Linked DNA regions of Homo sapiens. The protein of the gene in region 7 purifies or fractionates together with the protein of the main gene of each other region. This does not show direct contact. Each region holds a gene or a part of one and is shown on either strand. Other genes may lie near its edges.

Region 1 (3,222 bases), on a different chromosome or scaffold from region 7:
AGTGTGTGATGCTTTATCATAATGATTGAAGTTTTGTAGGAGGAGAGAGAAGGTGACATTTGAGCCAACTGTAAAAGAGTGAGAAGACATTTGAAGTGGAATATATTCCAGAATAAGGGGAATAGTAAAAATAAAGGTAGCTGTGTGATCATGGAAAAAACACTGTACTCTAAATCAAAAAGACCAGATTTTTGTTATCTCTCTGCTACTTATCTAACTTGTTAATCAGACAAATTATATAATATTCTTTGAGTTTGTTTTTTAATCTCTATAATAGTTAATATATGCTTTCTTCACAGGGTATTGCAAAGATTAAATGGGATAATACACATGAAGTACTTAGGCTTTTAGTAAATTTGTTTGCCCACACATTAGGGCTAAACATTTTAGCTTTCAGTGCATTTTGTACTCTGGCTCTATTGTTTCTTTTAAACTTTATTTCTCTTTAAGTTTCTTCCTTACCCTGAATTCAGGCATTCTTTGCTTATTGAAGAGAACAGCCTGCCTTTACTTAAATAACTGAAATCTTTTTTAGGTCCATGTATTTGTACAACCAAAATTCTTTCTAATTGTACGTCTCCTCAGCTTTAATGTCATTTCCTCAGTGAAGCCATCAGTATATACAATCTTCCATATTGTATTTTTTCTTCTGTGCATCCATAGTACTTTATACATTGTTTTATCATTGCTTAAGTATATTTTTAAATCTTCCCCATCAGAATTTTTTGAGGGGAGAAGATTGGGTTTTAATCAGCCTGATTTTTAGCACCTACAGTAATCCTGACATGCTCAATAAATGTGTATAAATGAATCACGAAGTCAATATTTTAGGTCCTGTTAATTTACTCTCTGTTTGACTTTGTGTTGTTAAACCTGTCTAGTCCTCAGTTTTCTCATTGCTGAAAGAGAGCATTGGAGCAATCTAGATAATCTCTAGGGACCTTTCTAGCTGTAAAATTCCATAATTAGGTCCATCTGTATTGTACCTTTTTAAGTTTTTCTCCTTACTGGAATGCTTCTTACTGCTTTCATCATATACCTCTTTTTTATTATCTTCTCAAGTTCATTCCATCCATGAGGCCCTCTCAAATGATTAAATATTGTGATTTTTATAGTTGTTATAGCCAGTGTGACTCAATTTGTTATACTGTCTTAAATTCTGTTCTGTTATTTTATATGTCATTTTGTATGTTGTTTCCTCAACTAGCTTGTGAATTCTTAGAAGGTAAAGATCATATTTTATATTTCTGTCCTATCTGTAATCCTTTGCTCATAAAGTATATTAGTTCCTTACAAAATTCGGCTGTTAATTATCTGATTTAGAGATTATTGGTTTATCTGGTGTGTGTATATATATATTTATTATTAGAAATAGGCTATTTCTTGCAGTATCTTTCTCTATGATATTTTATACAGAAGGTTTTATAAATATAGATTATTTTGTTTACTTATAATTTTAAAGGTAAGCTTGACTGCACTCATTTAATTTGCCTCTGGAGTCAGGAGTTTACAATTCTTCCTCTGTATCTATTAATAAGCAGTTTGACTAATATTACTAGAAGCTTTAATCTTTAATTTTGGCATTTGTTTTGCAGATGCTCTACCCATGGTACCCCAGGACCAGAAGGCAACCATATTTCAGATTTACCACTTCTAGACAGTCCCAAGTAAGGTTAATTGATAAGTTATGGGCCTCCAAAGCTAAGTTGCTGCTTAGCATTGAAAACATTAAGGCTGAGTGCAGTGGCTCATGCCTATAATCCCAGCACTCTGGGAGACTGAGGCGGGTGGATCATCTGAGGTCAGGAGTTCAAGACCAGCCTAGCCAACATGGCAAAACCCTGTCTTTACTAAAAATACAAAACTTAGCTGGGCATGGTGGCGCATGCCTGTGATGCCAGCTACTCATGAAGCTAGGACAGGAGAATCGTTTGAACCTGGGAGGCAGAGATTGCATTGAGCCGCGATCATGCCACTGTACTCCAGCCGGGGCGACACAGTGAGACTCTGTCTCAAAAAAAAAAAAAAAAAAAGAGAATAAGAGAATGTTAAGAAATTGGGAATAGTATGGTATTGAGTAGAATGTATTACTTGTATCCTCTCCGTACTGTAGTTTGAGTTACCTTTCTGTTCAGTTATGTTGTTTCTGCTCCCTCCCCATTTCCTGGTACTTTCCAAAATTTTCTCTCTAATACTGGTCCAAATAAAACATTAGTTCTTCTGTTTTTCTGTTTCTCACCTCATCATTCTGTAATCTCTGCGAAAGCTTCCAGGTTCGCTCATCGTAGGTCACTGGAAAAAATTGTAGCATTGCTAAAGAGTATTTCAGAGAAAATTTTGCATGCAAAAATTTAGGAAGATGAGTGAAACTCATCATTCTGTAATCTCTGTGAAAGCTTCCAGGTTCGTTCATTGTAGGTCACTGGAAAGAATTGTAGCATTGCTAAAAAGTATTTCAGAGAAAATTTTGCATGCAAAAATTTAGGAAGATGAATGAAACTCATTATTATTATTCTTTCAGTCCCTGGCTATCTTCTTCAGTGACTGCTCCATCCATGGTAGCCCCAGTCACTTTTGCATCTATTGTAGAAGAAGAACTACAACAAGAAGCAGCTCTTATTAGAAGTCGAGAAAAACCGTTGGCTCTGATTCAGGTAAATAACATACTTAGTAGGGTTTAATTTAGAGAAGAACTACATTTCCTACTTAGGTTTTAAGAAAATCGTGTTTGTTTGTTTTGGACAGGTGCTTGTATCTATGAAATTAAAATGTAAATGCCAGGTAAAATTAAACTGAGGCATCTAGCAGTGTATGTATTAGTTGTAGATATTCAGGGCAATTAATTTATGACTAATAAATTATGATAAAGCTTATATTTTTGCTTTGGTGATACTTTGGATTATTTTAGTTTTTTTAAAATGACCAGTAGAGAATTTGGCAGTATTCTCTAGTGCTGCACTTGGCTTCTGTATCAGTAAGAATTCTAAGATTGTAAGCAACAGAAGCCCACTCTGGCTAACTTAAGGAAAAGATAATTTATTTGAGGGATATTAAGATTCCATAGACTTAGCTGAAAGACCAGACAGCCAGGCTTGGAAACAGAAAAGACGCATAGTAGCACTGGAAAGCTCAGAAGCAAGATTTAGAAGACTTGTACAACAACAGAAAGTATCTCACAGAATAAAGCTATTGGAATGAATGAATTTTAGCAACCATTTTCAG
Region 2 (4,093 bases), on a different chromosome or scaffold from region 7:
CTTTTTAAATTATAGGAAAAAACTAACAGCTTCAAAATAAACATGACTTCAGCTGCCAAAATTTCTTGATATAATTCAAGACTTCATTTTTTAAAACATAATTAGAAATCAACATTATGTTTACTTAACATTATAGTCATTTTATTGCTCTAGAAAGTTTAGTTTCTAAAACCATTGGATTACTTACATAGTGACAATAAGACTAGCCACATACACAAAATCAACTGTATGAGGCTGCTTCTCCAGCTTAGTGGACAAATATTACAAAAATACAAAAATAGCTGATTATAGTTAAGCTATCAAGTATAATTTTTCATGTATTTATCCTAAGAATATCCCCTTTTTATAGATAAGGAGATGAACAAAAATAAAACTAATGTTACTGATAAATTACTAATGAATGTATTTGAGAAATCCAAATTACATGCAGACAGAAACTGGTCACAAAAACCATTACATTTCTCTATACTAAAACTGTACAATGTTTTAAACATTTCCAATCATGCAACGGTAATGAAGATCAGCATGAATTTTATAAGAGTTGATGGGAGTTCAATGAACAGGATTTAACACATTTTACAACCCAAATCAAAGTTGAATAATACATCCAATTCCCCTAAATTTATCTATGCGTTGAGACTGAAATGCACATTATTCCCCCACAACTCCTCCCCCTACCCCATTCCCAATCAATTACCTTACCTATAAAACCTTCCATTTAACCTTTTAAGTCAGATTTGATGGGTAAACATGTAATCTACAGTATACTCTCCATTATTATTTCAGGATAGACACACATATAGTCAGATGCTGAATCTTCATTACATTCCTTTCAAAAGGCATCTAAACTGTTGCAATTGTCTATGAAAATTCAAGCCTAAGAAACCAAGAAAACTGGCAGTCAAGATTCTGAACTAGGTAGTTCTACAAACTATAATACGAATAATCTATATGTCCACATTAGTAAAAGAAGGATTTCCTGTTTGAGAAATGTTTCTCAATGGCTCTTTGAAGGGAAAGCTGTGTCACTACTGCTTTCTGCTTTCAATGGCTAGGTGACCCCAAATATTTATCCAACTGGCTAAGAGGCTTACAGTTGAGCCTTTTAAAAAATACTCAAGGCCACAGAAGTACTTACGGAAATAAAATTTTAGAAGATCATAGTTTAAGATACATAGAATTCTTCTTATAATGGTACATTCAAAACACATCTGTCCTAACAAAGCAGCATAAAACCAATTAAAAAAACAATTTGAAATTAAATACACTGAGAAGTGTTAAAATCATTAACCAAAATTACTGAATGGTAGAATACTGTCTCAAAATGTACTGAATTCACATATGTGTATCACCATAATGAATTCATGCCAGATATAAACTCAGGTTACCAATTAGGTTGAAACAAATTTTAGAGCTATTTTTTTTACATGAGAAATTAATGTACTTCATGATATAGGCACAACAGCATCTTTTTAAAAAAACTGGTATATTTATCACTAGATACAGACTTCTTTAACCATTAGCAACACAGCGCAGTAAAATTTTCTCAAAACTTTTTAAGCTTGATTTAACATGCCAAGAAAATGATTATTTTTCCACCGAGATGCATTTATGTAAATTATGTAAATTGGATTGAGGTCAGTGTAACACCTGGAATTTACAACCCCTAGCAGAAGTACCAGCTGCTAATAATGCTTATACTATATTTGTAGCTTAACTAGATGTTAAACTATGGAACTGTTGGTGCCAATCTGCTTATAAAGGCAATGCTCTGGAGACAAAGTCTTCTCACAAACAGTGGGCAAGCAGGTTTCATTATTATGTGTTCAACAACAATCCTCAGTTCATTAAATAAGGTCCTGCAAGACAAAATAGTTTTCTTTGAGAAACACAAGGAAAAAGCAATACACAGGCTTACCTCATTTTATTGTACTCCATAGATATTTCATTTTTTACAAATTGAAGGTTTGTTGCAACACCGCATACAGCAAGACTATCAGTGCCACTTTCCAACAGCATGTGCTCACTTCATGTCTCTGCGTCACACTTTGCCAATTCTTCCACTATTTCAAATGTTTTCATTATTAATCTATTATGGTGATCTGTGATCTGTTCTGTTACGGTGATCTCTTTGGTGTTACTATTGTAACTGTTTTGGGGCACCACAAACTGCACAAATATAAGATGAAGCAGTTCATGAAGGCCATTCCTGATTGGTCTCTTTCCCTCTCCTCAGACCTACCTATTCTTTGAGACACAATACTGAAATTAGGCCAATTAATAACCCTGTAATGGCCTCTAAGTGCTCAGGTGAAAGGAGGCCTCCCATGTCTGTTACTTTAGATGAAAACTAGAAATGATTAAGCTTAGTGAAAAAAGCATGGCTAAAGCTAAGACAGGCCAAAAGCTAGACCTCTTGTGCCAAATAGCCAAGCTGTGAATGCAAAGGAAAAGTTCCTGAAGAAAATTAAAAGCCCATTTCTGTGAACGGATGAATGATAAGAAAGCAGAACAGCCTTACTGCTGATGGTAATGCTATTGCGCACTTAGCAGACTACAGTAGAGTGTAAACATAACTTCTGTATGCACTGGAAAACCAAAAAATTCATCTGACAGCTTTGTGATATTCACTTTATTGTGGTAGTCTGGAACCACTCCCACAACATTTCTGAAGTATGCCTCTAATGCTAAACAAATACTCATGAAGGAATCTACCATAGCCATTAGAATTTGAAGTAAAAGAATAACTAGAATGCATTGTAGAGAAAACACAAAATACAATGAAATTCTCAAACAACACCTACATCTTTTATGGGTGGAAACACTCATTTAACAAAGGTATTTAATAAATGGCTATCTCTAAAACCTCAGATTAAATTTTAAAAATTATATATATATATTTTAGAGTCACATCATTTTCACATTTAACTTAGGCAATTTCAACTAGTTTTTTAAAACAGAACAAGAAAAAATATACTACATGGACAGTGTTTTTTATATATTTTAAAATATATAACATGGACAGTTATATTTATTCACCCACTATTTCCTTAAATGTACATATTGTCCCTCAGAGATTTCCTCTTCTGTAAAATAATTCTGAGTTGTGGTGAAATTTAAATGCAATATGGAAGATGCTCAATAAATGTTACTTCCCAGTTGGATCAATACACTGAACTATGACTCTTTTATGCCTTCCGACTAAAGCCCAAGTACTCGGTGTCACACCCAATACCCTCCACAATCTAGTCTCAATCTAATTTTCTGCCCCATCTCCTGCCACTCCCTGCCCTCGCTCCTATCATCAACTTATGTTGCATGTTTGTGCCCAAAACCATGTGGGCTTTGCCTATGTCTTAACTGTGCTCACTGCCTACAAAGTATTATTACATACTGTAGATATCACATATATTATACAGGCTAGTATACACAAAATCATGTATACTGTACTGACATTTATAAGTGATATGAAGGATCATCAAGGGTAATTTTAACCATTCACAATTTTCACCTTATGTGCTGACTCATCCTGTATAAAGATGCAACTACTATTCTACCTTTTTGTGTCCTGTTTTACTTCTATGGTTAGAAAAAAAGCAACAAATCTACTTTTCTAAACAAGTATTTAATATGCTTGCACAGAAAGACAGGAATAATAATATTTGGAGTAATGCATAATTTTCCAAAACCTGCCCTTCCTGTATCTCCTGTCTTCGTGAGAGCACCATTACAACTCTTAGGCTTCCAAGCCAGAAACCTGTGGGTCTTTAATTTACTCTTTTCTCTCAAGCCCTAATATCCTATCTCCTAATACCTTTCATATTTGTCCCCTTTTCCTTTTACCACTGGATTAATTCAGGCTCTAGACTACTCTAATAGTCTCCAAATTGATATTTTTCTTCTCTTGCTGAGCTTGCAATCCATTTTCTGGAATATTTCTAAATCAGATTTCATCATGGGGGTTCCCAGCCTCTCTATGTTACAATCTTCAAAGGCTCTCCTTACCTCAAAATAAAATCCAAACCCTTTCATGATCTAGTCCTTTCTACCATCTACCTTTGTGGACACAGATATTTATCAATTCTCTATATAC
Region 3 (3,910 bases), on a different chromosome or scaffold from region 7:
AACCCAGGAGGTAGACGTTGTGGTGAGCCAAGCCAAGATCGTACAGCCTGGGTGACAGAGCAAGACTCTGTCTCAAAAAAAAAAAAAAAAAAGTGTGGTATACATAAAGAATGAAATTTGGATACATGCTATAACATGGATAAACTGTGAAAACATTATGCTAAATGAAATAAGCCAGACATGTATTCCATTTATACGAGGTACCTAGAAGAGGCATATTCATAGAGACAGAAAGTAGAATAGAGGTTACCAGGGACTTGGAGGGGAAAGGGGGAGTTAATGTTCTTATTGATACAGAGTTTCTGTTTGGGATGATGAAGTTCTGGAAACAAATAGTGGTGATGGTAGTATAACACTATGAATGTGCTTAAGCCACTGAATTTTATGTTTAAACATGGGTAAAATGGTAAATTGTATATTAGGTATATTTTACTACAGAAAGGAAAAGAAAAGAAAAAGGCATATAATTTCCTCCCTGAATTCTCAAAGAACAGAAAATGTGTTTTTCAAATTTGACTTTTATATGAAAGTAAATGACAAAATTAATCTCATACAATCACTTAGAAATGTTTATCTTTATTTCAGAATAACCTATAGGACCATATCCAGATAAAGGTCCTATCAGTACTTCTCATGAGTTATCACTCAGTTTTGCTTCTAGAGACCCACCAGTCAAAGCAGTAAAACTAAATCTCCTTAACAAAACTGAAGTCTTCAGAAAAGCAGTGCTAAAGGGGTGATGAAACCTTACTTAACCACTCCCTGTATGCAAGATGACTTATTTTGCATTCCTAAAACTTCTACTTTGATTCTCAATATATCCGTTTTTTTTTTCTTTTTTTCAAAAGCATTATTTTGGTGAAAATCCCAATATATGAGTTTAAAAAAAAAATCATTATCATCATTAACAGTACTTTAAATCAATTACTCCTTTTGCCTGCAACAGGGTCCAGCAAAGCCTTACCACCTCAAGCAAACCCACTATACCTATCTATGCTCAAGAAGTAGTTTGGCTACTGAAGACATGCTGGTCTCTTCCAAGTCTTTCCTCAGGATCCACACATCAGACATTCATCTCTATTCTCCAAAGAGCACACCATGGCTGCTGTGTTCCTCTCCTTCTCTTCTTCCTCTTTTGATACCTTTTCTTTATCTTTTAGCTTCTCCTTATTTAGAGTGAACTGGATTGGATTAGCCGCTGGTCTTGTCCTTAAATAATACATCCCAGTCTTCAAACCCTACAAGGAAAGTAAAGACAATTATTAGGAGAAACTCTGTGAGAATACTAGACATTCCACACCAATATTTAAAATACATTCCTGTCCAGCCGCCCCGTCCAGGAGGGAGGTGGGGGGGTCAGCCCCCGCCCGGCCAGCCACCCCGTCCGGGAGGTGAGGGGCGCCTCTGCCCGGCCGCCCCTACTGGGAAGTGAGGAGGTCCTCTGCCCGGCCAGCCGCCCCATCTGGGAAGGAGGTGGGGGGGTCAGCCCCCCGCCCGGCCAGCTGCCCCATCCGGGAGGGAGGTGGGGGTGTGAGCCCCCCGCCCGGCCAGCCGCCCCGTCCGGGAGGGAGGTTGGGGAGTCAGCCCCCAGCCCGGCCAGCCGCCCCGTCCGGGAGGGAGGTTGGGGAGTCAGCCCCCAGCCCGGCCAGCCGCCCCGTCCGGGAGGTGAGGGGCGCCTCTGCCCGGCCGCCCCTACTGGGAAGTGAGGAGCCCCTCTGCCCGGCCAGCCGCCCCGTCCGGGAGGGAGGTGGGGGGGTCAGCCCCCCGCCCGGCCAGCCGCCCCGTCCGGGAGGGAGGTGGGGGGAGTCAGCCCCCAGCCCGGCCAGCCGCCCCGTCCGGGAGGTGAGGGGCCCCTCTGCCCGGCCGCCCCTACTGGGAAGTGAGGAGCCCCTCTGCCCGGCCAGCCGCCCCGTCCGGGAGGGAGGTGGGGGGTTCAGCCCCCGGCCCGGCCAGCCGCCCCGTCCGGGAGGGAGGTGGGGGTGTGAGCCCCCCGCCCGGCCAGCCGCCCCGTCCGGGAGGGAGGTGGGGGGTCAGCCCCCCGCCTGGCCAGCCGCCCCGTCTGGGAGGTGAGGGGCGCCTCTGCCCCGCCGCCCCGTCTGGGATGTGAGGAGCACCTCTGCCTGGCCACCACCCCGTCTGGGAGGTGTGCCCAACAGCTCATTGAGAACGGGCCAAGATGACAATGGCGGCTTTGTGGAATAGAAGGGCGGGAAAGGTGGGGAAAAGATTGAGAAATCGGATGGTTGCCGTGTCTGTGTAGAAAGAAGTAGACACGGGAGACTTTTCATTTTGTTCTGTACTAAGAAAAATTCTTCTGCCTTGTGAGCCTGTTGATCAGTGACCTTACCCCCAACCCTGTGCTCTCTGAAACATGTGCTGTGTCCACTCAGGGTTAAATGGATTAAGGGCGGTGCAAGATGTGCTTTGTTAAACAGATGCTTGAAGGCAGCATGCTCGTTAAGAGTCATCACCACTCCCTAATCTCAAGTACCCAGGGACACAAACACTGCGGAAGGCCGCAGGGTCCTCTGCCTAGGAAAACCAGAGACCTTTGTTCACTTGTTTATCTGCTGACCCTCCCTCTACTATTGTCCTATGACCCTGCCAAATCCCCCTCTGTGAGAAACACCCAAGAATGATCAATAAAAATAAATAAATAAATAAATAAAAAGAAAAAACAAACAAACAAACAAACAAAAAAATACATTCCTGGCTGGGCGCTGTGGCTCATGCCTGTAATCCCCCAAGAGGGGTAGTACATGCCTATAAATTTCAGCTACTCAGGAGGCTGAGGTTGCAGTGAGCCAAGACTGTATCATTGCACTCCAGCCTGGGCAACAGAGCGAGACTCCGTCTAAAAAAGTATAAAATAAAATAAAACAATAATATTAAAATAAAATAAAATACATTCCTGGCCAGGCACAGTGGCTCACACCTGTAATTCGAGCACTTTGGGAGGCCGAGGCAGGTGAATTGCTTGAGGCCAGGAGTTTGAGACCAGCCTGGCCAACATGGCAAAACCCCATCTCTAATAAAAATACAAAAATTAGCCAGGTGTGTTGGCACACACCTGTGATCCTAGCTACTCAGGAGGCTAAGACATGAGAATCACTTGAACCCAGGACAGAGGTTGCAGTGAGCCAAGATCATGCCGCTGTACTCCAGCCGGGGCAACAGAGTGAGTCTCTGTCTCAAAATACATACATACATACATAAAATAAAATACATTCCCATGAACCAGATCAAACTTTTTTTAAACTTGGAATTCTATCTCCTCTAGGAGTACTCTCAAAAATGCTTTGTGAGTCAGACAGAAATATCCTGTTCTTTTCACTCCTAAAACAGGCTTATCTCTTTGGAAAGGTCAAACATTTTTATTCTTTTGTCTTTGTTTTTATGCATATGACTTCCAGGTTTGCCCAAGACAATATGTCTGCCTTAGGTTATAACTGTTTAGAGAGCTAGACTGTGTCTCTGTGTAACAACAGACTATAAGACTTCAAAGATAAAGATCATCATCTTCTATTCAGTATCCTCAGTCCTGGCACATACTAGATGTTCAATAAATGTTAAATTAAAAAACAAATTTATAATTCTACTTAAATACCCAATACATTATCAGGGAATAAGAACATAATCCAAAATCACCAGACTTTACAGCTGGCAACGACTAGCTAAGTAAGCTGGCTTTCACTTTATAAAGTGAGAAAACAATGGATGTTTTTGAATAGCGGGTTGACGTGTGCAAAGTTTTATCTGAGGAATGGTGGTAATGCACACAAAATGGCTGGGAGCAGAGATCCTAGAAGCAATAAGGTCAGTTTAGAATAACAGCAGCAGAAAAGGAAGGAAGATATTTAAGAAATAATACAAAGGAACAATCAACACAACTTGGTAATTGTACGGACAG
Region 4 (4,279 bases), on a different chromosome or scaffold from region 7:
ACAGGCATGCGCCACCATGCCCAGCTAATTTTATATTTTTAGTAGAGACAGGGTTTCTCCATGTTGGTCAGGCTGGTCTCAAACTCCTGACCTCAGGTGATCTGCCCACCTCAGCCTCCCAGAGTGCTGGGATTACAGGCGTGAGCCACCATGCCTGGCCCAAATAATTTTTTAAAAATTGAACCAGTTGCCAACTTTTAAGCACCAACAGATCAACCATAGAAATCAAGATTTCCATTTTTCTTGAAAAATGTAAGACCTACCACCTTGGGCGTTCATCCTCACAGCTCCTGTCACTTCACTACTGCTCCTCAATGCTGAGGATGAGGGTTGATCACCACTGATCAACTTAAATCCAGTTCACAACACTTTTTTATTTACGTTACCTTCTTGGCTCCTATAGACCACTGAAGTTGTCACTTCTCCTCCACCCCTTCTACCCTTTGCCTATATCCACAGGATCCTTCATGGGACTCCACTTGTTCCCCACAAGGTCCAAGGGATTACACCCACATTCTCAGCATCTTCGGACTGGACAAACTGAATGGCAACATGAAGAAAACGACGAATCTTCAGCCAATATTTGGAATAGTGGATACATCTACTGGCTTATGATCAGCTACACGATTCCAAACTCCTACCCCTTTATTTATTTACCCACTCCTACCCCTTCCTCCCATTAAAGAAAAAAGATAACTTAGTAGACAGTAGTTGGGTCTACAGTAATTTTATTGTAACAGAGAAACCAGGCCGCAATAAGTCTACATGGTTAGAGCAGATGGTGGTTCTTTCCAGTGGGTGAAGCCTGAACCCAGCTAGCAGCACGCAAAGCCTAGAATATCCTCTTTCCTGGTACCACCCTGCGCCGCTGGACTCACAGTGTGAGATGAGAGGCTGCACACCACATTCAACAAAGGGAGGAGGTCCAACCGGGCAGAGACAACATCCCAACTGGAGAAACTTGCACTATCATTCAAGAGGATGCCGAGATAAAGTACAGTTTCCTACTCTCCACTATTCTTTGCTGAAAAGGGTGAGGGTACAGCATCAGCAGAAAATTATGTTCTTCATTCTTAAATAAATCTCGATAGGATGGAGTTGATGGTCAATCAAGCAGTAGAATGGGATGAAAATCTGCAATAGTTAAAAAATCTTTGCGTGTAAGGAAAAGAACGGCAATGACAAGGGAGAAAAGAGAGCCTTCTCTTTTTCTTAAATAAGACAGGAAACTGCATTATTTCCCTTGCTGGAGTGGCAGCAGCCTCATTGGTTTTCATAAAACATCATTTCTGCAGTGCGGCCTGTTGATAAGGTTGTTCCAAGATGGGAGGACAGACACGAGGCCGACTACTCATGACAGAACTAGGCCTTCTCTCAAAGCCTCTAACGTGTGCTGTTTCTCACGAGGAACCTGACACTTCAGTTAAAGCTTCTGAAATATTGCAATGGCATAATTGACAGGTTTTTTGGTGCGATGACTTTCTTGCACATGTAAACTCTTTGAGAAAAGTTGGAGAAAAAAGGACCGGGGAGAGTTTGGTTTAATATTCCAGACGCCAGCCATGGATGCCTCTGCCCTGTGTCACTACATGTTCTTTTCTGAGAAACATTCAAATGCTGAGTGTTACACACTGTGGCTGAAAGAAATGATCCACTCACCACCATCCACCCTCTCTCATTGTCTGTGTGAAGCTCTCAATAGCAGAGGCTGAAGACAGAAAGGTTGTCTCTGTTTCCTCGCACCAGGGACATTACTTGGTGACCTGGTGAATGGCATGGGCAAGGTAGCCCACGTTGCTGGAGGTGACCCCTGCCACAGAGATGCGGCCATCTTTTGTCATGTAGATGGAGAACTCCTTGATCAGCCGCTCCACCTGCAGAGAGGAAAGAACTTGGGTACCTCTTCCCGGTACAGGGGATTCTCCCCGGCCTGACATGGCACAGTAGCCAACTTACCAACGCTCTATTTCCTCGCTTAAAACCTGTTCCCAGAATTTGCTGTTAGCTTGGAATAAAATAAGAATAAAAAGCTACTTTAAGGCTGGGGCGGTGGCTCACACTTGTAATCCCAGCTATTCAGGAGGCTAAGGCAGGAGAATAGCTGGAACCTGGAACCTGGAACCTGGGAGGCAGAGGCTGCAGTGAGCCGAGATTGCGCCAATGCACTCCAGCCTGGGCGACACAGTGAGACTCCATCTCAAAAAAAGAAAAAAAAAAAAGCTACTTTAAAGTAGGATGATGAATTCTGATGCATAAACAGATGGGGAAAAAGACACCTTTAGATTCAGCAGAGCCAGGATTCAATTATGAAACAGCTATTTCTCCTGTTGCTCTCTTGGGAGAAGCAACAGTGATTATGAACATGATCAAAACAAGCTCTGCTCTTTAGAAGTTTGTGAGTTCATGGGGGATACAGAGAGGTAAACAACTAAAAAAAAAAAGCAAAATAAATGCTAAAAAGTATTACAATACTTTTACCTAAAAGGGCTCCAAAATAACTGTTTTAACTGTTTTTAGGGTAATTTTGAACAGGTGGGTGATCTATGAAGAATCCTTCTGGGGCTGGGCTCAGTGGCTCACACCTGTAATCCCAGTAGTTTGGGAGACCAAGGCAGGCGGATCGCTTGAGTCCAGGAGTTCAAGACAAGCCCGGGCAACATGGCGAAACTATGTCTCCACAAAAAATACAAAAATTAGCCAGGTGTGGTGGCACTCACTTCTAGTCCCAGCTGCTCGGGAGGCTGAGGCAGGAGGATCACTTAAGCCCTGGGAGGTGGAGGTTGCAGTGAGCTGAGATTGCACCACTGCACTCCAGCCTGGGTTTCAGAGCGAGACTGTCTCAAAACAAAAACAAAAACAAAAACAAAACAAAACAAAACAAAACAAAACAAAAAACCCGAAAACATTAAATAAAAAAGAAAAAAGAAAAAAAAGTAATCCTTCGGGTTTGCAAAGACTGATCAGCTGGTCTGCTGCAGAGAAATCAGAATCACTCACCTGTTCAGGCTTTAGCCCTGTGAAACAGAACATGCCAATTTGGTCGGTGATGTGTTGCCAATTGTGGGTGGAACCCTCCTTCTTGAGGTTGGAGACCAGTTGAGTCCGCATGCCAATGATGCGGTCAGCCATGACTTTCACTTCTTGCAGCCTGTAAAGAAACCCTGAGATGCAGCTCATTCTGCCTAAGCACTGACCGATATGCTGGAGTTCACTGCATTTTTACCTCCCTTGAGCAGTCCCCTAGTGTGCCTCAATTCTCAGGTCACGAATGAGTGACACGCTGTCACTGGCCAGGGAAGAAAGCTATTTTATAGCATTCTGTTTTATATTGGAACACTATTTCCATAAGGCAACTGAAGCAGTTAACACACTTGAGTAGAGACAGTCCTTGACTTACAACTTTTCAACTTCATGATGGCACAAATGCAATATACATTCAATAGAAACCGTACTTTAAGTACCCATACAGCCATTTTGTTTCTTTCAGTACAGTATTGAATAAATTACATGAGACATTCAGCACTCTGTTATAAAATGGCTTTGTGTTAGATGATTTTGCTTAACTGTAGTTTAATACCTGTTCTGAGCATGTTTAAAGTATGCTAGGGTAAGCTATGATGTTTGGTAGGTTAAGTGTATTAAATGAATTTTCTTTTAATGTAGAGATGGGGTTTTGCCATGTTGCGCGGTTTGGTTACAAACTCCAAGGTTCAAGCAATCCTCCTGCCTAGGCCTCCCAGAGTGCCGGGATTACAGGTGTGAGCCACCACGCCTGGCCCATTTTCTTTTTCTTTTTCTTTTTTTCAGATACAGTCCATCACCCAGTCTCAGTCTATCACCCAGGCTGGATAGTACAATGGTATGATCATGGCTCACTGCAGCCTCAATCTTCCAGGCTCAAGTGATCCTCCTGCCTCAGCCTCCCAAGTAGCTGGGACCACAAGTGCATTCCACCATGCCTTGCTAATTTTCTTTTCTTTTTTTTTTTTTTTTGTAGAGACAGGGTCTCCCCATTTTGCCCAGGCTGGTCTGGAACTCCTGGGCTCAAGTGATTCTCCCACCTTGGCCTCCCAAAATGCTAGGATTACAGACATAAGCCTGGCCTTAAATGCATTTCTGACTTATGACAGGCTTATTGGGATGTAACCCCATCATAATTGCATCTGTATTAAGAAAAGTGGGCGGGGCACGGTGGCTCACGCCTGTAATCCCAGCACTTTGGGAGGCCCAGGCGGGCGGATCACGAGGTCAGGAGATCGAGACCATCCTGGCTAACACG
Region 5 (4,093 bases), on a different chromosome or scaffold from region 7:
ACAATAATGGCGGAAGGGGAAGAGGCACATCGTATATGATGGCAAGCAAGAGAGAGTGTACATGTGTAGGAGGAACTGTCAGACACTTATAAAACTGTTAGATCACGTGAGAACTCACTATCATGAGAACAGCATGGGGGAAACTGCCCCCATGGTCCAGTCACCTCCCACCAGGTCCTACTCTCAACATGTGGGGATTATGGGCATTACAATTCCAGATGAGGTTTGGGCAAGGACACAGCCAAGCCATATCAGAAGTGGACCCTCAAAAGTATATCCTTAATTGATCCTCCAATAAGCAGTGACTAATCTTGTCTGAAGATGACTACTTATGTTTTTAAAAGTGCTCTTGAAATTGCATTTTTTTGCTTTACAGCTATATTGAGGTATAAGTTACTTATAAAAGTTACCCATTTTAATGGCTGGGTGTGGTGGCCCACGACTGTAATCCCAGCACTTTGGGAAGCGGAGGCAGGCGGATCACCTGAGGTCAGGAGTTCAAGACCAGCCTGGCCAACATGGCAAAACCCCATCTCTACTAAAAATGCAAAAATTAGCTGGGCGTGGTGGCTCACACCTGTAATCCCAGCTACTTGGGAGGCTGAGGCAGAATTGTTTGAACCCGGGAGGCGGAGGTTGCAGTGAGCCAAGATTGTGCCACTGCACTCCAGCCTGGGTGACAGAGTGAGACTCCATCTCAAAAAAACAAGTCACCCATTTTAATTAAGTGTAGTGTTCCATGAGTTTTAGTAAATGTATAGAATCATGCATCCACTATAATAGTCAAATTTTAGAATATTTCTATCACTCCCAAAAAATTCCCTTGTACCCATTTATGATCACCCCTGGCCCTAGACAACAATTAATAATCTGCTGCTGCTATTTTCTTTTCTAAGGTTTCATTTAAGTGAAATAAGACAATATATAGTCCTTTGTTGGATCTATCAGTGGGTGCATGTGTGTGTGTCTTGCTTTTTTGCTATAAATAATGCTATTCTGAACATTCACGTAAACTCTTTGGACATATGTTTTCATTTCTCTTGGATAGTTGCCTAGGAAAGAAATTGCTGAGTTGAGGCTCAAGCCTGTAATCCCAGCACTTTGGGAGGCCAAGGCAGGAGGATCACTTGAGTCCAGGAGTTTGAGACCAGCCTAGGCAACATAGCAAGACCTCATCTCTACAAAAAATAAAAATAAGTAAATAATAAAATAAAAAATTAGCCAGGCATGGTGGTGCACACCTTTAGTCTCAGCTACTTAGGAGGCTGAGATGGGAGGATCACTTGGGCCTGGGAGGTCAAGGCTTCAGTGAGCCAACATCCTACCACTGCACTTCAGCCTGGGTGACAGAGCAAGATCCTGTCTCTAAAAGAAGAGTTTGCTGGGTTGTATGTTAAATATATGTTTAAATTTTTAAAGAAACTGCCAAACTATTTTCTAAAGTGGCTGTACCATTTTGCATTACTACCGACAATGTATGAGGGTTGCTCCCCATCATTGCCAATGCTTACTTTATCAGTGATGTCTTAGTGTGTGGTTTTGCTTTGCATTTCTCTAATGACTACTAATGTTGAGCAAATTTCATGTACTCTAACTCTTTGTATATTTTCTTTTGTGAAGTATCATTTGCTCATATTTTATTGGGTTTGTCTTCACATTATTGACTTTTAAGAGTTCTTCTTATATTCTGGATATAGGTACTTTATTAGGTATATGTTTTGCAAATATTTTTCTCCCAATCTATGACTTGCCTTTTCTTCCCCCGACCCCTTTTTTTATTTTGGGTCTTTCTCTGTTACTCAGTGCCACTGAGGCTGGAGCGCAGTGGTATACTCATGGCTCACTTCAGCCTTCAACTCCTGGGCTCAAGCAATTCAATCACCCTAGCCTCCTGAGTAGCTGGGACTACGGGTGTGCGTCACCATACTTGGCTGTTTTTTATTGTTTTTTGTAGAGACTGAGTGGTTGCCCAGGCTGATCTCAAACTCCTGGTCCCAAGCGATCCTCCTGCTTCACCCTCCCAAAGCACTAGGATTACAGCACCCAGCCCCTTTTCATTTTCTTAAAGATATCTTTGATAAACAAAAGTTTTCAATTTTCATGAAGTCCAATGTATCTGTTTTTTTTTTTTTACAATTTATACTTCTCTGTCCTATCAAAAAAGTCTTCTAGCATTGAATTTTATGTTTTATACTTACATAAATACACTAGCTTTCTGTTTATTGCAGTCAAGCTGTATTAGTCGACAGGACCATTTACATTTCAGGACAGATAGGCATGGACCCTTCAAGTGGACAGCTTGTGTCAGGAGGGGTAGCAGAAGAAGCTAAACAAGTAAGTTATTTTCCACATTTAAGGTTCCCTTTTCTACTACCTTTTTAATGTTGAAGAGCATTAAGAATCCACTTGCCTGATTTGTTTTATAGAGATTAACAGATAAATGTTTTTTAAACTACTTACTGCTTGATTTAACATAGTTTTTGATCTAAGAGTTGGAAATTTGATGGATCATGAATCATCTAACAACCAAAAGAGAGATTCCACCTCCTTAACACTAAGGTGACCTTAAACCTGAATTATTGACGTCAGATGACATGTTGCCACTTCCACATGGATTGGGAAATTTTCTTCTCAGGGCCACTGACCTGCCCCTCTTCAAAAAAAAAAAAAAATTACCACCACAGAAGTAAAAAGTCAACATTTTTAAAAATAAGAATGGGGAATATAATTTTAATCCAATAAATATAATTAAACCATAATTTAGGCCAGGCACGATGTGGCTCACACCTGTAATCCTAGCACTTTGGGAGGCCGAGGCTGGCAGATCACTTGAGGTCAGGAGTTCAAGACTAGCCTAGACAACATGGTGAAACCCCATCTCTACTAAAAATACAAAAATTAGTTGGGGGAGGCCAGGCACAATGGCTCACACCTGTAATCCCAGCACTTTGGGAGGCCGAGGCGGGCAGATCACCTGAGGTCAGGAGTTCAAGACCAGCCTGGCCAACATGGTGAAACCCCGTCTCTACTGAAAATACAAAAATTAGCCAGGTGTGGTGGCATGTGCCTGTAGTCCCAGCTACTCGGGAGGCTAAGGCATGAGAATCGTTTGAACCCGGAAGGCGGAGGTTGCAGTGAGCTGAGATTGTGCCACTCCACTCTAGCCTGGGCAACAGAGCAAGAACCCTGTCTCAAAAAAAAAATAGAAAAAAAAAGTAACCCAGTCAGGTGGCACATGCCTGTAGTCCCAGTTACTCAGGAGGCTGATGCAGAAGAATCGCTTAAACCTGGGAGGTGGAAGTTGCAGGAAGCCAAGATCGTGCCACTGCACTCCTGCCTGGGACACAGAGCAAGACACTGTCTCAAAAAATAAAATAAAATAAAACAATAAACTATAATTTACTGCATTTACTGAGTCATATAATGCTGAAAGTTTGTTTTGTTTTGTTTTGTTTCTTGAGACAGCCTTGCTCTGTCGCCCAGGCTGGAGTGCAGTGTCGTGATCTCAGCTCACTGCAACCTCTGTCTTCCAGGTTCAAGCAATTCTCTTGCCTCAGCCTCCCAAGTAACTGGGACTACAGGCACACGCCACCACACCTGGCTTATTTTTTGTATTTTTAGTAGAGACGGGGTTTTACCGTGCTAGCCAGGATGGTCTCGATCTCCTGACCTCATGATCCACCCACCTCAGCCTCCCAAAGTGCTGAGATTACAGGCATGAGCCTCCACACCCGGCCTAGCTGAAAGATTTTTAAAAACCTAAATATCCACTCATAAAGAACTGGTTGAATAAATTATGCTAGATCAATACAACTAAAGTAATGTGGAAAGATCTCCGAGGTAAATTGTTCCATGGTAATAAAACCAAGATGCAGAACAACATGCACAGTATGCTACCATGTGTGCTTGTGTGTTTAAAAATATGTAACATAAGCATTGACTGTACCTAGAAGGATATACAATAAATTAGGAACAGTGGTTACCTCTGAGGAGGGAAACTTGGGAGAGGGAGAGAGGGGTGAGAGATATCTTTACACGGTATATGCTTTTTTAATAGCTTTTGAGTTTTTTTGTTGTTGTTGTTGCCATATCC
Region 6 (3,500 bases), on a different chromosome or scaffold from region 7:
GGCACTAAAGGAAATGAGATGGCCTGGGTGCAGTGGCTCACACCTGTTATCCCAGCACTTTGGGAGGCCAAAGACAGGAGGATCCCTTGAGTCCAGTTCAAGACCAGCTTGGACAATATAGTGAGACCCTGTCTCTACAAAAAATTAAAAAAAAAAAAAAGCTAGGTGTGGTGGTATGCACCTGCAGTAGCACCAGCTCCTCAGGAGGTTATGGTGGGAGGATTTCTTGACCCTGGGAGGTTGAAGCTGCAGTGATCTGTGTTCACACCACTGCACTCCAGCCTGGGTGACAGAGAGAGACCCTGTTTCAAAAAAAAAAAAAAAAGAGGAAGTGAGATGGATAAAGAAAAAAGTAGTGAGTAATGGAGGATAAGATGCTTGGAAATTAGATTAGAGAGGTATTATACTTATTGGTAATCACATAGCCTAGAGTAAAACCATGGTATGAATGCCTTAAAGGTAGGATGGACATCAAGGAAATGACAGGCCAAGCCAGGGTAGTAAATCATTTATAATATCCATATAGATTCTATATGGATAGTAAAATCACTAAGAATTCTGATTGAATCAGTGTATGTGAAAGAGAGAAAGCAAAAATCTTCAAAGTGTAAGGAGTGATTTTGAGACAAGATTATGCAGCTGTTTGTAAGGTTTTATGCAAGGTACTGGGGACACAAACAAGCAAATAGGCCTTATAACACAGCGTGTTGAGTGCTAGATGGGAGACAGACACGATATTGGATAGCACAAAGTAAAGATCTCTGTGATAGAGAACTTCCTTCTTACAATCTGGACAGAGAAAGAAGAATGCCCGTACACTGTGGATGTGATTTAAAAAAAAAAAAAGCAGAAAGTATTCATTTTAGCTATTAGGGTCTCTGGAAACAAAGGGGAATTCTGCTGATTCAGAAGCTAAAAACATTAGAGAGCAGGAGGGTGGGAGAGGGAGAGATAGCTTGATTCAGCTGATAGAAAATGTAGTTTCAGAAGGTCTTTACCAGAAGCTTGTTGTGAGGGCAAAGGTCCCTGATAAGAGTTAAGCCATTTTCCCAAAAAAGAATGGAAAAATACAGTATAATTAGTACTATATTGTTGTATAAAATCACTCCAATTTGCTTACATGCTTTTTTGAACTATCTGAAATGTTTCCATCATTTATAAAAATTATAGTGGAAAACTTTGTGCTGAATTTTAAACAACTTATCACATTTAAAAATGCCAGCCAGGTGCCATGGCTCACACCTATAATCCCAGCACTTTCAGAAGCAGAGCCAGGAAGAACACTTGAGGTCAGGAGTTCGAGATTAGCCTGGGCAACACAGCGAAACCACCTCTACAAAAAAAATTTTTTTATTAGCTGGGGGTGGTGGTACGTGCCTTTAATTCTAGCTACCCAGGAGGCTGAGGCAGGAAGACTGTTTGAGCCCAGGAGACTGCGGTGAACTATGATTGCACCACTACACCCTAGCCTAGGTGACAGAGCAAGACCTCGTCTCTTAAGCAAAACAAAAAACGAACCCATCCATTTTAAAGCTAAGAATTGCCTAATGTGTCAAGTCTATGTGCATGGAGAAAAATAAACAAAGAAAAGCAAAGATTGCTTAATGTATGTATTTTATGTGGCAGTATAACTGGAAACCATCAGTTATTAATAAAAATTATAAAGGTGATGGTATTAATGAAGAAGAATAAAAGCAAATACACAATTCCATACTGTGTAACAGACATTATGCCTAATGATTTATAATTATTAACTCATTTGCTTATCACAAACACCTTATGATGTACTAACATCATTATACTCATTTAAAGATTAGAAAAAGGAGGCTCAAAATAATTCTAAATCTTCTGAGGAAGATTTTTGCCTTCCTCAGAAAACATGTATCTGTCACCAGCCCCTTGAGATGTCAAAATGCTAGTGAAAAGAAAAAATTATAAAAATTAATGACTATGGTGCCAAGAGACAAGGTCTTATTTAAACCCATAGAAATACAAATATTAACTAAAGCTCTAAATTTAAAATAAATTTTAAAAAATCACTGACAGCATAATCCTTACCTCAATGTAGGAAGAAACCCAACACACAGATTATTACAGGTGAACTTTGTGATATGTGAGCATGAACTACATCAGAGTTGATTTCATATACTTAAGAATCCCTATGTTCAGAGAATTTCTTCTTAATCAGAATGATTACTTTTACTCAGAATTATCTGGATGACAAAACCTACTCAGATGACAAAACCTGCTCACAAATTAAAATCTATCAAAAAAAGAGAAAACATCCTTACTGTCCCTGCAGTATCCAGGATTTCGAGCATACACTGTTGGCAATCGACTTCAACTTGCTGTGGGGGCAAAAAAAAAAAAAAGGTTAAAGAGTAACATCAAAATCTCATTCTGTTTTCTTCCCACCTCTTCCATCAAAGTAACTATTAACAAATACAAAGCCTGTCTCCAGCAGTATGCTGTAATGGCTGGGGGTAAACTTGGTACCACAATAAAGAACAGCGGTCTCAAGTACAGTCTATTCATATTACAGAAGCCAAGATGGTTAATGCTGAGTTTAGATATTTTCTGACCTCTGTAACGATTCTTATTTGTTATTAGAAAAGGCAAAAGTCATATTTTGAAATTTAAGGAAAACTTCAACGAACAAGTATAGTTCTAACAGAAAAAAAAGTACATATGTGTATTTATATTATCTCCAAAGAAAACAAAGTACAAAAATATTAAATGGCTCAAAATGCGCACAACATTTTGGGGTAAAGAAAATCTTGCCAACTTACCATGTTCAAGTTGTTAAAATTTTACTAAAATATGCAGAAAATTAAATACACAGTAAAATCTGAGTTTAAGACATAAAAGAAACACAGGAGTACTAAAATAAACAGCAATGAGCTAAAACAGTGCCTCAAGAAAAAGGCACTTTTCTAGAAAAGCTCTATGTGAAAGGTGAAATTTTATACACTGAGTTCTATTTACCCATTGGTCTTATAAAAGAAAAGAAGGTTGGTCTAATGAAAGTATCAACTATCAACTGTGTGGAAAACTGTTTTAATAAAGAAGGGATTAAGAAAAGTTAGTCCCTTAGAATTTTAGGTACAGATCTTGCTTTGCAGTTAAAGCTTTAACTAGCAACTTACTTTGGGGAAATTTCAGTAGAGCAACACTGTCTTCTAAAAATAAATGTGCTAACCTAAAGACTATTTTAAACTCTGCTTCTGTGTCAGATCAGACATTGATGAGGGGCACCACTGGTCAGACCACAAACTCATCCACCCCACCACTTATGGGACAAGTGTGATAATCTGCAAAATTTGTAACTGGGAATGTTCAGTGAATAATCAATTAGGACTATAGTTTCTTGATGTATCTAGAGCATAATTCTGTTTCCAATTTGAAGACAATGAAACTGCTCTACTAGTAGTCCTTCATGAACTAACAAATTAATTCAACAAAAGTTACAGCACTATTAAAGGTAAATTCTAAAAATGTCT
Region 7 (4,684 bases):
ACTGCTGCCCTCAGATCCCGCCTGCCCATGGTCCTGGCCCACAGCCCCTGGGTCAGCCAAATTCCCAGGCTTTGCCTCTCTAAGACTGGGCTCCACCTCTGGGGACCCAGCATCATCATTTTCTGCTGTGTCTGTGCAATGATGACCTGCTGACTGTTTCTCCATGGTTACTCTCTCACTCTCTTTCTCTCTCTGTTTCTATCACCTCTCTGTTTCTCTTCCACTCTGCATAGACCCCAGGTAAGGGCCTTCACCCAGGATATACCCCAACACCCTCAGCCATGCTCTTACCTGGGTGATGTCCCCCTGGATCTGTACCACACCTGGTAGTGGAGCCATAGCCTGCAGGTCCACAGCCACCACGTGGCCGGACCCTTGGCCCCTGTGGACAACATGGCCCACATCAGCCTAGTTTCGCTCCCGGGCCCCTCCCACCCAGCCGGCCCTCCTGGGTCTCCCATCTGGGACCCCCACACTTACCCGATCTTCTGGCTCAGCACCTGGCTCCAGCTGCCTGGGGCTGCACACAGGTCAACTGCCCGTGTCACGCCTGGGCATACATAGTGAAAGCATCCTGATCAGCTGCACCCACTTCTCCAACCTGGAGACCCTTGCAAAATTCACCCCTCTCCCCTGGGGAGCACCCACATATCTCCATTGCCCAGGTGCCCAACTCCTCTCCGGTATTCTGCCTATCTTCCTGCCTGTCTCCCTGCCCCAGAGACCCTCTGAGTCAGCCCACCTACCACAGGGAGCTCTGCAGACCCAGCCTACTTGTTTACCTCCTGTGCCCACCTCACCGCCCAGTGACCTGCCCACCAGTCAGGGACCTTGGAAGAGTTGGAATTCCTTATCCAGTTGTAGCAGTTTGAAGGCGCTGCGAGCACGCCAGCCATTCTCCTTGGCCAGGCGGTAGTAGACATCCCGCTTGTCCTTTGACGTCCGTCCCATTTCACACACCAGTTGCTCAAGGACCTGCCGACAGTCCACTGATGCCGGCCAGTATCAGTAACCAGATGAATGGGCTACCACCTACCTCTGTAGGGCGGAGAGAACCACACAAACTAAACTGGGCTCATCTGACCCACATGACAGCTCACACAGAAGATGGGCTGACTGAAGCCCTGGCACTGACCCCACTGACCTTATAGGGCCTGAAGGACCCAATCACTGAACTCTCAGGCTCCACTGCTTATCACACAGACCCTCCTCGCCCCCATCACTTACCCCACAGTTCCCACAAAAGACCCCATAAACCCAACATTCATCCCATAGATGGCCCACTTGTGAACCTGTCCACCTCCCATCACTGTCACCCACACTCCACACATTAAACCCTGCAACTGCCACTATCAACCCTTCTCTGCTCATGTCATGCCCATTAAAATCTCACTGACTGTATCCCCAGTTGTCCCCATTGCCCCTAGATTCATATAGTCCTATTAGCCCCCATTAATCCCTTGTTTTCCACCTTTATCCTAATACTACTTCATTGTACCTCCCACTCCCTATATCTCTCTCGTTTCACCCCATTCGCCATTAATCCCTTAGATGATTAGGCCCCTTTATTACTACATCCTTATGAACCTCTAACAATGCCTGGAGAATCATGGTCTATTAGCTCCCCATTAAGCATTCAATTACTGATTTATCAGCCCCCATTAACTCAGTTTTCTCCAATAGACCCTTCATAGATCACAGCACTAGCCTCCTGCCCTGTAACTCTTTCATTAACAAACACGTTAACTGATCACACATCAGTTCCCCATTCTCCCCTCACTGTCCACCCTGCTCTCCATGGATCCATCACTGGATGATCACACTCCAACAGTTTACTATTCACCTACTATGTATCAACAGAAGTTAACCCCCCCAACCCTAGTTTACTATTGCCCTCTCTTTACTCACTCTGTCCCCTAATTCCTCGACGGTCATGCCACCATAGCCCAACTACTGACTCTGACTACAACACCATCAGCCTCTCATTATCTTTTCTTTCACCAAGGCCCCTTGATCATGACCTCCATCCATCTATTATTCCCCCCACAACCTCACCATCATCCTTGCCATTACGATGCCCCATCACTTTCCATTAACCCGTTGAATATCATACCTCCATCAATACCTGGGGGATCATTTTCCCATCCATCACTCGTTATATTCTAGTTGCTTACTCTGCCATCCCCTCATTAATCAATCAATGAACAACAGTTCGACTAAAATATTCTTATTAGCCCCCATTGATTCCCCAGTAACACCCCACCCTCACGCTCCACCCAACCTCCCAAAACAGCCTTCTGACCACACTCCCCGTCCCTCCTCATCAATACCTCAAAGATGATAGCTCCATCGGGACCACCGGGTACCCCTCCAGGCGGCTCCGACCGCTGCGTCCCATGTCCCCACCTCGAATCCACCCCGTCTACTGGTCCCCTTCTGCAGACAAACCTTGGGTCTAGAACCCACCCGGTGCCAGCCGCCCGAACCATACACAGCTACGGCGCCCAGGGCGGACCTCCCTCCTTTCCCCGCAGGCGGGACAGTGCAGGCGTGCCTCAATAGCCTCCGCCCGCATTCCTGTCCTCCGCGCCCCAGGGCCCACCTTAGTTTTCGGAGCAGGGTGGTCCGCGAGCAGCCTGTGCCTCGGCGAGAGCGCAAACGGGCGACAAGTCCTAGGGCTTCAGTTTGTGTTCGTAGTCCACCCGAATGCCCGGGGGGGCAAGCCTATGGGCTGTCGCAGCGTGGCAAACTCGGCATCGTGGATCGCCCAGGTTCCGGCGGGCCGGGACCTGATGTGAACGTACAACGTGAGCCCCGTCATCTATTGTCGACGTATCCGGGGCTCGCGAACTGCGTTTCCCGGCATGCAACGGGCACGGCCAAAGCGGCTGAATCCACGCACTGCGTGGCTGCAGCGACGCGACGCGCAAGTTGCCAGCGATTCTTTGTTCTTTTTCTTCCGAGGCCAAGATCGATTTGCTCCCCCGCCCCTCCCTTCTTGGACCGTGCTTGTTATTGAGCCTGTAAACTACATTTCCCAAGATGCCACGCGCAAGATGGCGCCCATTCATTTTTCGCGTGCCGGGAAGCGAAATTACCACTCGGGGCATAAACGTGACAGTAAGGAAAATGCGTTCTTGAAGTGCGCGAGCGCGCGGAGGCTGCTCGGCTGCAATTTCAGATCGCACTACAGCTAATGCATGGCGCTGCCTGAGTTTTACTGCCTCAGAACTTCAGTTTCCCTGTCTGGAAAGTGGGGATAATCAATAGTATAGACTTAACAGCATTATTGGGAGGGTTAAATAGGTGTAGCTTAGCCACTCTCTGGGCTTTTGTAATTCTGTGATCTTCAAATATTTTAAATTCCATCCCAGACACAAAAAAAGACTATACATCCTGACCCAGTGGACAAACGGAAAAATAATGAAAACGTTTATCATAGTGTTTACCATGTGCTAGGCTCTAAATGCCCTCAGTGGTGTGCTGGTAAATGGTTAACCACTGGCTGGGGCGGGGGTGGTGGCGGGGAGGGGTGGGGGGAAGGGAGGCTGGTTTCTAGCATTTACCAATTTCCATGGCTTAGGTACAATCTTCTTGTTAGATTTCAAGGTACCGACCTGTGGTCACTGAACAGGGAGTTTAAAAGAGATGCAGTAGTGCACTATCATGTATTATTTTTACCATACAGATAAAATGGGGGTAAATGACCTCAAGAGCATAGAGAATAGTGGAATGTGGTAAAATTAGGAAGTTACCAGTTTTGAGTAAGTTTATATCATTTCATTTTTAACCATAGCTGTTTAACTTTAGGGGGCTGAGGTGGAAGGATCGCTTGAGTCCAGGACTTCAAGACCAGCCTGGGCAATATGGTGAGATCCCCGTCTCTACAAATAATAAAAATAGCCGGGCGTGGTGGTGTGTGCGAGTAGTTCCAGCTACTTGGGAGGCTGAGGTGGGAGGATTGCATGAGCCTGGGAGGTCAAGGCTGCAGTGAGCCTTGATCTTGCCACTGCACTCCACTGTGGGTGACAGAGTGAGACCCTGTCTCAACAAACAAACAAAACCAGTTGTTAAACCAGCTGTTTAACAACCAGTTTGCAAAATTTCTGAAAATTGAACAGCTCCTCCCAACCTGTATAAGTTGGCTCCAGCATGTCCTTCCCTTTGTTCATTCATTTTAATCCTGGCAACATGCATATGAGTATTAGCCAGGGGCGGCGGCATGTGCCTTTAGTCCCAGCTACTCCAGAGGCTGAGGTGGGAGGATCCCTGGAGCCCAGGGGTTTGAATCTAGTCTGGGCAACATAGCGAGAACCCATGTCTCTTTAAAAAATAAAAGGGCTGGATGCAGTGGCTCACGCCTATAATCCCAGAACTTTGGGAGGGCGAGGCGGGGGGATCACTTGAGGTCAGGAGTTGGAGACCAGCCTGGCCAACATAGTGCAACCCCGTCTCTACTAAAAATACAAAAATTAGCTGGGCGTGGTGATGCGCACCTCTAGTCCCAGCTACTCAGGAGGCCAAGGTGGGAGGATCACTTGAACCTGGGAGGTGGAGGTTGCAGTGAGCCGACATCGTGCTACTGCACTCCAGCTTGGGCGACAGAGTGAGACCCTGTCTCAAGAAAAAAAAAAAAAACAGAATGATTGATTCCTTAGCACACGAGCTTCACCAGGCAGGGATT

What was found.
Region 1: the proteins of FTSJ1 (region 7) and IBTK purify together in Homo sapiens (affinity purification with mass spectrometry, with the first as the bait; one large-scale study listed by BioGRID). This does not show direct contact.
Region 2: the proteins of FTSJ1 (region 7) and TMEM33 purify together in Homo sapiens (co-immunoprecipitation; one large-scale study listed by IntAct). This does not show direct contact.
Region 3: the proteins of FTSJ1 (region 7) and RRM1 purify together in Homo sapiens (co-immunoprecipitation; one large-scale study listed by IntAct). This does not show direct contact.
Region 4: the proteins of FTSJ1 (region 7) and GOT2 purify together in Homo sapiens (co-immunoprecipitation; one large-scale study listed by IntAct). This does not show direct contact.
Region 5: the proteins of FTSJ1 (region 7) and RIDA purify together in Homo sapiens (co-immunoprecipitation; one large-scale study listed by IntAct). This does not show direct contact.
Region 6: the proteins of FTSJ1 (region 7) and RAP1A purify together in Homo sapiens (co-immunoprecipitation; one large-scale study listed by IntAct). This does not show direct contact.

What each region holds. Positions count from the first base shown.
Region 1 is NC_000006.12:82,171,812-82,175,033, reverse strand, and holds part of IBTK (inhibitor of Bruton tyrosine kinase), read left to right. Parts: intron 1-1,595; coding exon 1,596-1,667; intron 1,668-2,521; coding exon 2,522-2,654; intron 2,655-3,222. UniProt on the Homo sapiens protein: Acts as an inhibitor of BTK tyrosine kinase activity, thereby playing a role in B-cell development. Down-regulates BTK kinase activity, leading to interference with BTK-mediated calcium mobilization and NF-kappa-B-driven transcription.
Region 2 is NC_000004.12:41,951,836-41,955,928, reverse strand, and holds part of TMEM33 (transmembrane protein 33), read right to left. Parts: intron 1,860-4,093; coding exon 1,730-1,859; 3' UTR 1-1,729. UniProt on the Homo sapiens protein: Acts as a regulator of the tubular endoplasmic reticulum (ER) network by modulating intracellular calcium homeostasis. Mechanistically, stimulates PKD2 calcium-dependent activity. Suppresses the RTN3/4-induced formation of the ER tubules.
Region 3 is NC_000011.10:4,135,523-4,139,432, reverse strand, and holds the end of RRM1 (ribonucleoside-diphosphate reductase large subunit), read right to left. Parts: intron 1,239-3,910; coding exon 1,050-1,238; 3' UTR 501-1,049; downstream 1-500. UniProt on the Homo sapiens protein: Provides the precursors necessary for DNA synthesis. Catalyzes the biosynthesis of deoxyribonucleotides from the corresponding ribonucleotides.
Region 4 is NC_000016.10:58,706,420-58,710,698, forward strand, and holds the end of GOT2 (aspartate aminotransferase, mitochondrial isoform 1 precursor), read right to left. Parts: intron 3,149-4,279; coding exon 2,998-3,148; intron 1,875-2,997; coding exon 1,752-1,874; 3' UTR 712-1,751; downstream 1-711. UniProt on the Homo sapiens protein: Catalyzes the irreversible transamination of the L-tryptophan metabolite L-kynurenine to form kynurenic acid (KA). As a member of the malate-aspartate shuttle, it has a key role in the intracellular NAD(H) redox balance.
Region 5 is NC_000008.11:98,106,887-98,110,979, reverse strand, and holds part of RIDA (2-iminobutanoate/2-iminopropanoate deaminase), read left to right. Parts: intron 1-2,228; coding exon 2,229-2,334; intron 2,335-4,093. UniProt on the Homo sapiens protein: Catalyzes the hydrolytic deamination of enamine/imine intermediates that form during the course of normal metabolism. May facilitate the release of ammonia from these potentially toxic reactive metabolites, reducing their impact on cellular components.
Region 6 is NC_000001.11:111,696,289-111,699,788, reverse strand, and holds part of RAP1A (ras-related protein Rap-1A precursor), read right to left. Parts: intron 2,349-3,500; coding exon 2,292-2,348; intron 1-2,291. UniProt on the Homo sapiens protein: Counteracts the mitogenic function of Ras, at least partly because it can interact with Ras GAPs and RAF in a competitive manner. Together with ITGB1BP1, regulates KRIT1 localization to microtubules and membranes.
Region 7 is NC_000023.11:48,474,315-48,478,998, reverse strand, and holds the start of FTSJ1 (tRNA (cytidine(32)/guanosine(34)-2'-O)-methyltransferase), read right to left. Parts: upstream 2,801-4,684; 5' UTR 2,603-2,800; intron 2,437-2,602; exon of another isoform or gene 2,331-2,436; intron 1,039-2,330; 5' UTR 952-1,038; coding exon 831-951; intron 551-830; coding exon 481-550; intron 383-480; coding exon 292-382; intron 1-291. UniProt on the Homo sapiens protein: Methylates the 2'-O-ribose of nucleotides at positions 32 and 34 of the tRNA anticodon loop of substrate tRNAs. Requisite for faithful cytoplasmic translation.